Linked DNA regions of Homo sapiens: regions 1 and 3 are each linked to region 2. Evidence: fine-mapped expression QTL. A gene starts in region 2. Each other region holds a variant in brackets. All regions are shown on one strand. Distances are from middle to middle.

Region 1 (2,756 bases), 37 kb after region 2:
TAGGGAAACAGGCTGGGCACCTGTAATCGGGAGGCCGAGGTGGGTGGATCACCTGAGGTTAGGAGTTCAAGACCAGCCCCTGGCCAACATGGTGAGATGCCGTCTCTACTAAAAATACAAAAAAAAAAAAAAAAAAATCTGGCCATGGTGGTGGGTGCCTGTAATCCCAGCTACTTGGGAGGCTGAGGCAGGAGAATCGCCATTGCACTCCAGCCTGGGCGACAGAGCAAGACTCCATCTCAAAAAAAAAAAAAAAAAAAAGAGGAAGCGATATATAAAATGGCATATATTACAGGAACCAATTTGTGTAAATCTTCAACAGCACATAGATATGCAGATATATGCAAATCATTTCCTGGAAAGAAAGAATCAGAACCTGTTAATGAGGAATGCTTTGGAAAGAAGGCACCAAGAAAGGAAATATTATTTTTGGACATGTATTAATATATAATATGCATTTATGTAATATATGTGAGATGTAACATATAAATATATTTCTTGGCTGGGCACTGTGGTTCGTGCCTATAATCCCAGCAGTTTTGGAGGCCAAGGCAGAAAGATTTCTTGAGCCCAGGAGTTCAAGACCAGACTAGGCAACATCATTGAGACCCCATCACTACACACAAAAAATTGCTGGGTGTGGTAATGCACGCCTGTAGTCCCAGCTACCTGGGAGGCTGAGGTAGGAGGATTGCTTGAGCCCAGGAGGTCAAGGCTGCAGTGAGCTATGATTGTGCCATTACACTCTGGCCTGGGTGACAGAGCAAAAACCCTGTCTCTAAAAAAGAAAGAGGCTGAGCACAGTGGCTCACGTCTGTAATCCCAGCACTTTGGGAGGCCAAGGCAGGCAGATGACCTGAGGTCAGGAGATCAAGACCAGCCTGGAAAACGTGGTGAAAACCCATCTCTATTAAAAATACAAAAATTACCTGAGCATGTTGGTGCATGTCTGTAATCCCAGCTACTCAGGAGGCTGAGGCAGGAGAATCGCTGGAGCCCAGGAGGTGAGGCTGCCATGAGCCAAGTGCTGGGATTACACAGGTGTGAGCCACATCAAGGTTTGGGTGCAAGAGTACATCTGGTTATAGATTACAGAAGCATAATACCCTGACCCCATTAGATGTTATTTTATGTGTAGGAAAAGGTTTGAACCAGGTCCTTTTTTTTTTTTTTTTTTTTGAGATGGAGTCTCACTCTGTTGCCCAGGCTGGAGGGCAGTGGCACAATCTCGGCTCACTGCAAGCTCCGCCTCCTGGGTTCACGCCATTCTCCTGCCTCAGCCTCCTGAGTAGCTGGGACTACAGGCACCCGCCACCACGCCCAGCTAATTTTTGTATGTTTAGTCGAGATGGGGTTTCACCGTGTTAGCCAGGATGGTCTTGATCTCCCGACCTTGTGATCCGCCCACCTTGGCCTCCCAAAGTGCTGGGATTACAGGTGTGACCCACCCGTGCCCGGCCCAGGTCCTTTTTTTCTTTTTTCTTTTTTTTTTGGGGGACGGAGTCTTGCTCTATTGCCCAGGCTGGA[G/C]TGCAGTGGTGCGATCTCAGCTCACTGCAACCTCCGCCTCCTGGGTTCAAGCGGTTCTCCCGCCTCAGCCTCCTGAGTAGCTGGGATTACAGGCATGCACACCACCACACCCGGCTAATTTTGTATTTTTAGTAGAGACGGGGGTTTCTCCATATTGGTCAGGGTAGTCTCGAACTCCCGACCTCAGGTGATCCGCCTGCCTGGGCCTCCCAAAGTGCTGGGATTACAGGCATGAGCCACCGCACCTGGCACGCCTTTTTTTTTTTTTTTTTTTTTTTGAGACAGGGTCTTTCTCTGTCACCCAGGCTGGAGTGCAGTGGCACGATCACAGCTCACTGCAGCCTCAACCTCCCCAGGCTAAGGTGATGCCCTTGCCCTGGTCTCCCAAAATGCTGGGATCACAGGCATGAACCACCGTGCCCAGACTCATTTAAGGAATATAGTGACTCGGGCAAGGGACATGGTGTGCCCTGTGCTCTGTCCTGTTTTGTCTTCAAAGCCTTGTTCTGTAGAGCTGCGCAGACGTGTCTCACGTGTCTCAGAGTCAGGGGCTTTGTGAAATTACGCTGGAAAGCAGAATTGAGCAAACCCAGCTTAACATTAGTTACTTTTTCTCACATTTTCACAACAAAATATCACAGACTAGGAGGCTTAAACAGCACACATTTATTTTCTCAGTTCTGGAGGCTGGAAGTCCAAGATCACAGTGTCGGCAGGGTTGGTTTCTTCTGAGGTGGGGGCACCTTCTCCCTCGGTCCTCACGTGGCCTCCTCTGTGTGTGTCTATGTCCCAATCTCTTCTTCTAAGGACATCAGTCATATTGGATTAGGGCCCACCCTAATGACCTCATTTAAACTTTTTTTTTTTAATTATTTTTTTTAAAGGTGAAGTCTCACTCTGTAGTCCAGGCTGGAGTGCAGTGGTGCAATCTCAGCTAATGGCAACCTCCACCTCCTGGGTTCCAGTGATTCTCCTGCCTCAGCCTCCCGAGTAGCTGGGTCTACAGGCATGTGCCACCACACCTGGCTAATTTTTGTATTTTTGTATTTCTAGTAGAGACGGGGTTTCACCAAGTTGGCCAGGCTGGTCTCAAACTCCTGATCTCAAGTGGTTTGCCTGCCACGGCCTCCCAACGTGCTGGGATTACAGGCATAAGCCACCACACCTGGGTTTAATTTTCTCTCTAAAGGTCCTGTTTCTGCTGGGCACAGTGGATCACGTCTGTAATC
Region 2 (2,756 bases):
TTAGCAGGCTGAGGCAGGAGGATCGTTTGAGCCCAGGAGTTAGAGGCTGCAGTGAGCCACCATCAAACCACTGCACTCCAGCCTGGGCAACAGAGCAAGATCTTGTCTCAAAAAATAAATAAATGAATAAATATCCATCTGGGGGTGTAACTTTAACACTTTTACCTATAGGGGTGTGCAATGGAGAAAAAAATTTGGAGTCGTTGAACACAATGCTATTTTGCTCCTCAGAGAGTATCCGGCAGTCTCTGGAGACGTTTTTGGTAGTCACAACAGGGAGAGTAGGGAACCACTGGCATCTAGTGGGTGGAGGCCAGGGATGGTGTTAAATGTCCCCCAATACACAGGACAGTCCCCCACACAAAGAACTAGGCCGCCCAAAGTGTCAAGAGTGCTGGGCTTGAGAAGCCATTGCCCAAAAACCCCAGACTTAGTCTTGCTTTGGGGGCTCTGCACGGCTGCCTCATCTCCCCACTCTATTCCTCCCCTAGCTAAGACCTCCAATTTCAGTGACTCTACAAAGCATCCCCTCCTCCAATGAAGTTGCCATCTCTGTGTCCCCAGGCTGGGCCAGAGCCCCACCACCTAAGGGCTCCCTGATGTGCCCTGTACTGGGTTAGAATTGTCCGTCCCACGGGGTTCTTAACCATTGCAGATTCCCTGGATCCCTGAGACAGCCGGATTCTACCGGGCTACTAGAGACCAAGAATCTGTATTTTTCTCAAGCACCGCTCCCCCCAACCACACACACACTGCCTGCCCCTATCAAGGGCACACAGCAGGTGGCCCAGTGACTAGTTGAACGCCTACTGCAAGCCAGGCGCTATTACGCGATCCACTCGGGAATCTTGGCACATACTCCACTCCATGGTGTAGACACCAGGATTCTCCCCATTTCACAGAGGGGTAAACTGAGGTTGAGAGAGGTGACCGTAGCTAGGACAGAGACTCAGGGCAGGAAAAGGGCCCAGGTCCTCATGAGCGCCAGATTCCCGGGGAAGGAGGGAGAACAGAGAGGAGGGTGATGAACTGGGGGAGCGCGCGCTGGGTGGGGGGGCGCGGGGCCTCGCCGCGGCCTTCTGATGCGGCCCCGCCCCCACGAGGGACGTGAAGACGCGGACCCCGCGCAGCGTGGGGACATGTGACCGACTGCAGAGGCCGCGCCGCCTCCCCCGTCCGAGGTCTGCGCGCTCCGCCGCAGGGTGCAGACCCGGGGCGCCCGCCTGGGTTTGGGGCGCAAGAGCAGAGGCGGAGCCAGGGCGGAGCCAGCGCGCCGGGTCCCCCCTGAATCGAAAGCGAAACAGGGGCCGGGGAGGAAGGGCGGAGCCGGCCCCGAGGCACCGCCCCCTGCCCTGCGCGGCTGCTGGACCGACGGGCGCACCCAGGTAGGGGGGCGGCTGAGCCGCGCAGTGCGGACCCTCGCGGGGAACTGCGCCGCCGCCACCATGTCTCAGGAAGGTGTGGAGGTAAGCGATGGCTACGGCTGGGCCGGGGTCAGCCGCGACAGACCCCGAGGAGCGGCCGGGAGGCGCGGAGGGGGCTTCGCAGTTCCTGGGGACCCCCATCCTAGAACCCCAGATCCTTACCCCTGCCTGGCGCTCGCCCCCCTTGAAAAGGAAAGTGACTCCCACGTTTCCCCAGAGCGAAATGAGGCCTCCCCGAGGAAAAGCGGGGGCTGCAGGGTCAAAGGTCAGAGGCCAGAGATAACCTGGCCGCCCCCCCACACCTTAGGCTGGGACGCTCGCCCCAGTCCGCGCCTTCCCCCAACGCCCTGTGGGGACTTTGGCTTTTTCCAGGAAATGCCGTAAAGGGATGAAAGGCGGGGGGGGGGCGGCGGAGGCCAAAACCAAGGGTCAAGTTCGGGCCGGGAGAACGGTGCCTAGAGATGGGGGAGGGATGATCCCGTTTCCCCTTCCCCCACCGGAACCCCCCTGTCTCCATCCCAGCTGGAGAAGAGCGTCCGGCGCCTCCGGGAGAAGTTTCATGGGAAGGTATCCTCCAAGAAGGCGGGGGCTCTGATGAGGAAATTCGGCAGCGACCACACGGGAGTGGGGCGCTCCATCGTGTACGGTGAGGCTGCAGGGGTCCCGGGCCTGGTGCGGGGACCGCGCGTGGGAGCGCCGAGGGGGCGTGGTCTAGGGAGAGGCGTTGAGATCACCTCCCCCGGAGGTCCCAGCCTTGGGGAGGCTCTGCGTCGCGGCTCTGGGTGGCCTGGAACTCCCACAGACCCTTCAAGGGCCCTTCCCTTATATGCACTCTCCCCCGCAGGGGTAAAGCAAAAAGATGGCCAAGAACTAAGTAACGATCTGGATGCCCAGGTAACCTATCCCCTCCCCTCGCAAAGGACCGGGTCACGGGAGGGAGAGCAAGAGGGGGGACCCGACCCGTTCATGGTGACTGACCCCCCTCTGAAACAGGAGGGACCAGGCATTGTCGGTCCATAACTCATCACCCAATCTCACTTTTTCACCTCTCCATCATTTGTCCGGCCAGGGAGCCTGCAAACAGTAGGCGCTCATTATGTGCTGATTGTATTCAATGGGGGAGAGAGCCATGAAACTAAGCAATGAAAGGAGCCAGGATTATTGCCATCATAGCGGGGGCGCAGAGGTCAGAGAAGGCTTACTGGAGGAGGAGGTACCAAGTCTTAAAGGATGGGGAGGAGTGAGCCCTGGGAGGGGAAAGGGAAAGAAAGGCAGGGGTCTTGGGGTGGGGGAGGGAATGGCATAAGCAAAGGCTGGGAGGTGGGGAAGGGT
Region 3 (2,756 bases), 62 kb after region 2:
AAGAAAATCAGGCAACTTTTGAGTCATTGAGACAAAAACCCTAAGATATCAATGAACAGGGTCTAGAATATGGTTAAGAACACACCACGAGCAACAGTCCCGAGTGGCTCAGTGAGGAACTCAATCCAGCAGAGACTCCTACTGTTCTCTCCATAAAGGCTCAACAGGTATTTGAGGAAATTCAACATTATTCTTGACTAGTAAGCCCTTAAAGGAGACTTGAAGATGGCCTTAAAAATAGAGATCAAGGCCCAGCATGGTGGCTCATGTCTGTAATCCCAGCCCTTTGGGAGGCCAAGGCAGGAGGGTCGCTTGAGCCCAGAAGTTTGAGACTAGCCTGGCCAACACAGTGAGACCCCGTCTCTACAAAAAATTTTTAAAACATTAACCAGGCAGGGTGGTGCATGCCTGCAGTCCCAGCTACTCAGGAGGCTGAGGCAGGAAGATCACTTGAGCCCAGCAGGTCGAGGCTACAGTGAGCTGTGACCACACCACTGCATTCCAGCCTGGGTGACAGAGGGAGACCCTGTCTCAGATAAATAAATAAATAAATAAATAAATAAATAAAAGAGGTTGGGTGATAAATAAATAAGTAAATGAGGTTGGGTGCAGTAGTTCATGCCTGTAATCCCAGCACTTTAGGAGCCTGAAGGGAGCAGATGACCCAAGGTCAGGAGTTCCAGACCAGCCTGGCCAACACGGTGAAGCCCTGTCTCTACTAAAAATACAAAAATTAGCCGGGCATGGTGGCAGGCGCCTGTAGTCCCAGCTACTTGGGAAGCTGAGGCAGGAGAATCACTTGAACCCAGGAGGTGGAGGTTGCAGTGAGCCGAGATCGTGCCACTGCACTCCAGCCTGGGTGACAAGAGTGAAACTCCATCACAAAAAAGTAAAAAATAAAATGAAAATAGAGATCAAGCCAAAGCTAGCACGAGACTTATGGGAGAAGCACAGATGCCCCCGGGGAGCCCTCTTGGCCTCCTGGGTTTCCCTGGTTGCCACCTGCTCCTCTGGGGGTGCTGGCTGCTGCTTTTAGTTGAAACAAGTGAGGTACGGAGGTTAAAAAGAAGGCATGGGGCATTGGACATTAAAAAATAAAAGCTCGCCGGGCGCGGTGGCTCACACCTGTAATCCCAGCACTTTGGGAAGCCGAAGCGGGTAGATCACCTGAGGTCGGGAGTTCGAGACCAGCCTGACCAACATGGAGAAACCCCATCTCTACTAAAAATACAAAAAAAGTAGCCGGGCATGGTGGCCCATGCTTGTAATCCCAGCTACTCAGGAGGCTGAGGCAGGAGAATCGCTTGAACCCAGGAAGTAGAGGTTGCGGTGGGCCAAGATTGAGCCACTGCACTCCAGCCTGGGCAACAAAAGCGAAACTCTGTCT[C/CA]AAAAAAAAAAAAAAAAAAAAAATTAAAAAAATAATAATAAAATAAAATAAAAAATAAAAGCTTCCCTCAAAGCAGTCACCCAGTTACAAAAGAATCGAGGACAGGTGTGGTGGCTCACGCCTGTAATCCCAGCACTTTGGGAGGCCAAGGCGGGCAGATCACAAGGTCAGGAGATCGAGACCATCCTGGCTAACACAGTGAAACCTCGTCTCTACTAAAAATACAAAAAACTAGCCGGGTGTGGTGGCAGGCGCCTGTAGTCCCAGCAACTCAGGAGGCTGAGGCAGGAGAATGGCATGAACCCAGGAAGCTGAGTTTGCAGTAAGCCAAGATCGCACCACTGCACTCCAGCCTGGGCAACAGAGCGAGACTCCGTCTCAAAAAAAAAAAAAGAAAAAAAAAAAGGAAAGAAAAGAATCAAATAAGAGGTCTCATTTACAGGAGAAAATATCTAAGAAACAGCCAAAAACATGCAAGAGCTGGGCACACACTGAAGAACACACGGGAAGTCTTGAAATGGCAAGACGAACCCTGTTCCTGGGTAGGGAACCCTCTTACAAAGACAACGCCAGGTCATCCACACACTTAAAGCAACTCCAGGCCATCTACACACTTGAGCATCATTCATAGTCAGGCTGGCCTTTGACGAGCAAGAGACACAAACTGGGGGGCCGTTGGCGGAAGCCAACCAGACGGAAGCACACGGGAAAAGGGAGTGATGTGGGCTGAAAGTGCCTGCTGACCCCGAGTCCAGCCCCAGTGCTCACTTGAACTTGTTGTCCTCTGTTGGCTGGGTTTTTGGAGGGGACTCGAATCTCGCGTAGTCTTGATCATACCACAGCTGGTAGAAGTAGGTCTTCCCGTCGTCCCCCTCCAGCAGGGACTCGGGATCCATGCCTCCCTTGGGAGATAAGAATGCGTGTCAGGCCAGGCGCAGTGGCTCATGCCTGTATTCCCAGCACTATGGGAGGCCGAGGCGGGTGGATCACCTAAGGTCAGGAGTTCGAGACCAGCCTGGCCAACATGGTGAAACCCCGTCTCTACTAAAAATACAAAAAATTAGCTGGACGTGATGGTGGGTGCCTGTAATCCCAACTACTCGGGAGGCTGAGGCAGGAGAATCACTTGAACCCAGGAGGTGGAGGTTGCAGTGAGCTGAGATCATGCCATTGCACTCCAGCCTGGGCAACAAGAGCGAAACTCAGTCTCAAAACAAAAAAAAAAACAAAAAAAAAACCAAATTAAAAAAAAATACAAATCAAAACAAAACAGAACGCACGTCAGCAGTGACCCTCCACGATAAGGCAGGGGCTCACGAGGGACACCAGGCACTCACCTCCATGGCCCAGTTTTCGGAGGGGGCTTTGT

What was found. PIP is the estimated chance that this variant, and not a neighbour inherited with it, causes the effect. A credible set is the group of variants that fine-mapping cannot tell apart.
Region 1: its variant is the best candidate, but not a certain one, in a credible set for the expression of SHFL in neutrophils (CEDAR, PIP 0.82).
Region 3: its variant is the best candidate, but not a certain one, in a credible set for the expression of SHFL in neutrophils (Naranbhai 2015, PIP 0.82).

The regions. Positions count from the first base shown.
Region 1 is chr19:10,122,407-10,125,162 of GRCh38, forward strand. No RefSeq gene overlaps it. Among named protein-coding and RNA genes, the nearest start is that of EIF3G, 3.9 kb to the left of the region's middle. The variant G/C (reference allele first, on the strand shown) is at 1,528.
Region 2 is chr19:10,084,983-10,087,738 of GRCh38, forward strand. It overlaps SHFL (shiftless antiviral inhibitor of ribosomal frameshifting), which reads left to right and starts at 1,335. Exons shown (of 8, transcript NM_018381.4): 1 at 1,335-1,466; 2 at 1,947-2,070; 3 at 2,269-2,318. The coding sequence starts at 1,446. RefSeq lists silencers at 1,034-1,253, 1,324-1,603.
Region 3 is chr19:10,146,729-10,149,484 of GRCh38, forward strand. DNMT1 (DNA methyltransferase 1) reads right to left here. Exons shown (of 41, transcript NM_001130823.3): 26 at 2,725-2,756; 27 at 2,156-2,289. Among named protein-coding and RNA genes, the nearest start is that of EIF3G, 28 kb to the left of the region's middle. The variant C/CA (reference allele first, on the strand shown) is at 1,388.